Linked DNA regions of Homo sapiens: region 2 is linked to region 1. Evidence: fine-mapped expression QTL. A gene starts in region 1. The other region holds a variant in brackets. All regions are shown on one strand. Distances are from middle to middle. Region 1 holds the start of CLDND1 (claudin domain containing 1). Region 2 has its middle 2.7 kb from the start of OR5K2.

Region 1 (2,924 bases):
ATACCAATGCATGTTTTTGGGTATGGTGATACACCGTCTCCACAATCCCACTGTGCCATTGTATCGAAAAAGTGCATCATTATAAGTCTTTTCATCTGCCTCATCACTAATGAATTCATCCCAGATGCTTTTATTCAAATCACTGGAATTTTCTTGAACTGGACTTCGATATTCATACCAGAAGTCTGTGCCAATGGAGGCTGCCATGTAGATGGTGGAAATGAGGCTAAGCACACAAGCAATTACAAATGCTGTAGCAAAACGGTTATCCATTCTGGCATTCAGACTGCTCTGTTTAGAAGTTGAAGAAAGAAGATAAGTTAGAGTTTACGGACAAATAAGAAAGATTATTTTGAATTATTCCAAATGCACCCTTTACCCAATTCCCCATCCCTTCGTACATATAACCATTAAGAATTTTTTTTAGAAAGCAAGCATGTTTTTAATTAAGCTTAAAACAAAACTCATTCTCATAAAAGTACTTATTGAATGCTCACATACCCAGGATGCTACGGAGACAGAGGTCTTGTTCTCTAGTCTATCACCTGCATACTAAAACAGACAACACTGAAATGGACATACACATTACAGATACAAACAATAGACATGCCCATGGTCAGCAGTGTACCGTGCACACATTTTAAATTACAGACTGAATTTTTGCACGAGCTGCAGAGGATTAAGTGTTCTGGGTTTGAGTGTTAAAAAGGCACAGGAAAAAGAAGCAGTGGAAATTGGCTTCTCCCAGTTTCCTCTGAAGAGGGAAGCCTCCTAAAACAAAGGTAAGAGTCAGGAGCCATACAGAAAACAGAGTTGAAGATGTTTGTTAACCCCGAGGGAAAGGTTGTTCTAGGTGTATAAAATAGCAAAGAGAACAATAACATGTAATAATGCTAGATAGCAATCTCTCCCTAATCCATTAAAGCTAAGCCAAGCTTCTTTACGCTGCCAAATGCTTCACTCCTATCTACTCTCCCGATTCCTTATACTTCTGAACCTCCTCAACAGAAATCTTGCTCTCTCCCTAAATCCTCAGTGCAACATACGTCCGCAAAAACTAAATGATCCCTCCTCAGCCAGACAGAAAACTCTCAACATATCAACACTCCCAAGGCGTGGACAGGGCTCAACGGCAGTAGTAAATGGCCGCGGTAAAATGACTCAAGGCAGATCGCGCTGAGTCAAATACTACACGGCAAGTATACACCGTGACCGCACCAAACACCTTACAAAGGTTCATGAAAACAGACTCGCAAACTGGGGTTGCTGAGTTTGGAAAATGGGAAGTGACTCAGGAAAGATAAGAGCAATGACAACGAAAACTCAAAAAGTTGGATTTGTATTTTGATTTTTTAAAAATCCCCCCTTCATCCTGGTGCTCTCAAATGACCTTAAAGGGTCCCAGCACTGGGAACGGCGGTTCGTCCAAGCCGGACGCCTGCAGCAGCCACCTCCTGGGCCTCACGGCGGGGCCGGAGAAGGCCAGGGCTGGGGCGGGGCAGCCGTGCTCGGCCCCGGGCCAGGGTCCCCCGGTACCCGACCAGGCCCCGCCCTAGAGGGCTCGGCCCTGGGACAAATCCGCCGCTCGGAACCCGCCCAGCCCGACCACGCCCGGGAAGGGGGCCCCTCTTCAAACCGCCGGGAACATGGAACCGCGACGCGACCCCTGCCCGGCGACGCAGGTCCCGCTCACTCACCGCCCATCCTCCTGCTCCGCCAGCTTCACCCTCTAGCTCAGACCACAGCACCCTACTCTCCCCGCGCCTCCTCTGACGCACTTCCCTGCAGAGCCCGCCCCCTCCATAACTCCCGCGCCTCCGCCCGCCCCCACTCCGGGCCGGGCCGCGGCCCGGGGCCGAGGGGCCTTGTGGGAGTTGTAGGAGGGACAGACTGAAAGCTGTCTGAGGCGGCGATAGGCATTCCTGGCGCCGCGCGCGGCGCATTGTGGGAGATGTAGTTCAGCTCCTCAGGGCAAGCCGGTACGCAGAAGGGAAGTCTAGGCTGTTGGATTCTTGCATTTTAGGGAGGAAGGGAGAATGGTCCAGAAAGTAAAGCGGGCCTGTTTCCGGTCATCTCGAGTCAATGACCGTGACTTGTATAACTTAGATCTGACTTTTAGGCCTGTGCTTTCCCTATCACACCACCCTGCCTCTAGATCTAAGTATAAATGAACAAAAATGGGATTCTACTTGTGAAACGTTGACCCATTTTATTTCCCTCTCCCAGAATCCCTCCCATTGGAGCAGAGCATCCTTCTGGTTTTATTGCATAAGTTTAGGCTAAGAAGTATGTGACCTGGCAGACAGTATCCATCAAGAATGTAATGATATTATTTGGGTTTCATAAAATGTGTTTGTAGCTGCCTTCTTTTTATGACAAGTGATACTAGTTTTCTATTGCAGCAATGTTGTTCCTTTTAAATTCTTTTCACTTATTTTAAAAACTATTAAGTTAATAATACTGAGGATACCAGATATGTCAAAAAATGAATAAAAAATTGTGGGTATAGTAGGAAAAAGACTGAAATTTGGGGAACATCACTCAAGCAGATAAGGTCATGGACAGCATTGGAGATTGCAGATGATGTGTGGCACAGGGGCAACAATGATTCTGAACCCTCAGGTTTAACACAGAAATTCATGGACAGGAAGCAGGGACATCTTAACAATAACATGAGTGGAACTATTAACGTGGCCTGGGACCAGCAAATGGTGGATTTCTCAACAGTAACCGACAGAGAAAGCTGACTCAAGGACCAGAGGGGCTCTCAAACCCCCACTCTGTCCCCTAATGCCTTGTAATTTAGCATAGGAGAAAGATGGGAGCTGCAAGTTGATATTAAATTTCTACCACTTTGACAGATTAAAGGCATGATATGTTTCTCTATCTGTACTTACATTTCTTTGACCTGAGTGGGTGAAACT
Region 2 (2,924 bases), 22 kb before region 1:
ATTTACAAAGCGGGCTTTGATAACCAGCCCACTCTATAGCTTACAACATGTGCATTACAGTTAAGTGTTTAAGATCATGTGAACAGTCAACCAACGAACTCACTTATATCCATGAGCAACAAAAATGGCAAGTGAATTTTGAGGAAGAAAATGTAATAGCATGTGGGGGACATTATTGTAGTTAGAATGAGGTAGTCAGGAAGTGATTGTGCCAATAAAAGTGAATATTATATTTCCAAATAGAAGTTGTTGTTAAATGATTTAAACATTTAAATAATTAAAATCAGAATGTCAAATTTCAAGATAGGTTACATTAAGTTTTATTTACTCCAAAACCTACATGCATAAAGATACCATATCATAAAGTTCTAGACAAACATTTCAAACTTCATGTAGATCTGAAGAGCCTTCATTGTCAGTGAGTTAGGCTAAACTTCTCTGTGCCCATTCCTGAGAGGTGAGGAAGGGGTTAAACAATGGAGACACAACCTTTGGGTATATTATATACAGACATGTAAAAAAGTGTGATTGTGGGACTGTGGACAGGGCTTATCTCAAATATTTTCTTTTATTCCTTCACCATTGCAAAACTTAAAGTCGTTTAATATGGATAGAACCTAATAATCTTATGTGACATCATTAAAGAGATACTTTCCAATTATTCACTCTACATATATTTATTGAGATTCTGCTATGTGCAAGCACTGTTCTAGATGCTGAGACATATTAATGACCAAGACACCACTCTTTTCATCTTCTTAAATAATAGAACATTGCCATTATTTTAATTACTAACTTCTGGAACAAGGAGGACCCATAACAAGTAACAGAAAAATTCTCCCTTCCACCTCCTCTCTTGATGCTCTGTGGTCACATCTAAATTTCCAGAAGGCAGTTGTCAGATTGCAGTGGGCCTCAAGCTAGCCAGCCACCAGAGGCTGGCATCACATGGAAAATCAGCATGCTGAGTCTATATAGAAAAGGGAGTAGAAAACAGATATATTTCTAGATATAATTCCCTAAATCATGAATGAAAAACTATAAAAATATAGTGTATATTTGTAACCTCCAAGAAAACCTAACCTAGTTCATTCCAATTATACTCAGACATTTCAGTATTTCCTTGCCTGTTTCAAATTTAAACCCCATCAGTTGAGTTTTTGCCTAATGCACGTCCATCAGCATCACCAAATGTACTTGGATACTTACTATGCGTCCATGTGCTAAGCTGTGTATACACATTACCTCATCCAACCCTCATAAATCCTGTGAAAGAATTGCAATTATTATCCC[T/A]TGTGACAGGTGAGAATATGAAGCACAGTATGGTTGAGTCACTTGTTCAGTGACCCACAGGAGTCTGCATGACCTGAACCCCAGGCTGCCTGACTACAAAAACTACATTCTCAATTATTACATAAGAAATCACAAAAGGTCACCCAGAGATTGCACAGAATCGTTTATCCCACGCAATGCAGAACAGCATAGTGTTCTTTGGAAAATTAATTTTAAGAAATTTAAATATCAGGAGAATTTTTATTTAAAATTTTTATTAAAAATTTTTATAAAAGCAAAAATTGACTTTTCTTGAAAAAGTGGCAACAATTCTTATGTCACCTCCCTGGCCCCTCTGAACATTTAAATTTATAACTTTGCATCTTTGCATTAAAAACTACTGCCTCTCATCATACTTCATTATTTCAGTGCTTACTTACAGTAAAAATATTTACCAAGTTGTAGTTGTGAATTATAAAATATGCTGATTTGAACAATTTCTCAATGTTTCAGCTTACCTTTTATAGTGAAAACATTAAAAAAAAGAAAAGACCAAAAAGTTCCAGAAGGGATAATTTATTAATTCGTTTGCAGTCAATATATAGTGGGTTAAGAAAAAGCAAAAATAACAATAAATAAATAAGCTAAATACAGAATTTTTTGGGCACCTAATGAAATGGTGGTGTGTTTTGGGGGTGTGTATTTCTGCTAGATGCCATTTCACTATGCATTAAGTATGCAAGGTAGGATTCAACTACTATCAGGAGGAAAGATGGGAAATTTTGACCTGTTTGTTATACACCAGAGCAGAAAAACTGGGAAGAAATACTCAACCTACAAGAAAAATAAATAGATTTAACCAGAAAAAACTTTACATTTTAAATGCCTGCATTGACTTCTTCCCTGGTTTCCTGAGTCCAGCTAGGTCAATTTTATAATAAGAGGTCCCAATTTTCATCTTCTCAGAGATTGCATCTGTTGGTTGCATCGTCCATGAGTGGAAATTTTACAGTTCAAAGAAAAAATAAGGGTTTGGAGATCATATTCACTGGAGAAGAAAAGAAGATGAAAAAAAGGATGCAGTTCATTTTAAGTTCTGAGGGTGGAAGTAGATTCGAGGGTGATTTCAGGGAAGTAGATTTGTCTTTTCCTCCAGGGAATAATCAAGGTTCTTCCCAAATCCCTACAACCTCTTTCCTCTTCTCCTACTTGGGCTTCCCTGTTTGCACGCATGCGTGTGCAGGAGTGGCTGTGTGCTTGGACTCAGCTCCAGCTGGAAGCATGCTCTCCTTTGTCACTGTTGGAGAAATTCAACAGTACAAAAATACAGTTGATGACTTGATGAAAGGGCTGCACCTTCAAGCCATAGATGCAGCCCTTTTGTCAAGTCATCAACTGCATTTTTGTACCGAAGTTAACAAAAAAAGAGATAAAATATTAATTGTTCCTTTAAACCTTAAGAAAACCTTAAAAGAAAAAAATAAGCCAAATACATTATTTTAAAAAGAAAATCTTATACAGTAAACAGTTAACTGTTGAGCTGTACATTCTTTATAAAAAAATTATTCAGTTTTACTGGGCAGGAGATATAGGTATGAACTTGATAGAAATATGGTAGAACAATAATCAGTATAATTCATTTTAAGCAAATA

Evidence for each region. PIP is the estimated chance that this variant, and not a neighbour inherited with it, causes the effect. A credible set is the group of variants that fine-mapping cannot tell apart.
Region 2: its variant is the best candidate, but not a certain one, in a credible set for the expression of CLDND1 in esophagus mucosa (GTEx, PIP 0.79).

The regions. Positions count from the first base shown.
Region 1 is chr3:98,521,152-98,524,075 of GRCh38, forward strand. It overlaps CLDND1 (claudin domain containing 1), which reads right to left and starts at 1,751. Exons shown (of 5, transcript NM_001040181.2): 1 at 1,698-1,751; 2 at 1-291. The coding sequence starts at 273. It overlaps CLDND1-AS1 (CLDND1 antisense RNA 1), which reads left to right and starts at 1,419. Exons shown (of 2, transcript NR_198998.1): 1 at 1,419-1,682. RefSeq lists silencers at 1,198-1,307, 1,358-1,997.
Region 2 is chr3:98,498,952-98,501,875 of GRCh38, forward strand. No RefSeq gene overlaps it. Among named protein-coding and RNA genes, the nearest start is that of OR5K2, 2.7 kb to the left of the region's middle. The variant T/A (reference allele first, on the strand shown) is at 1,294.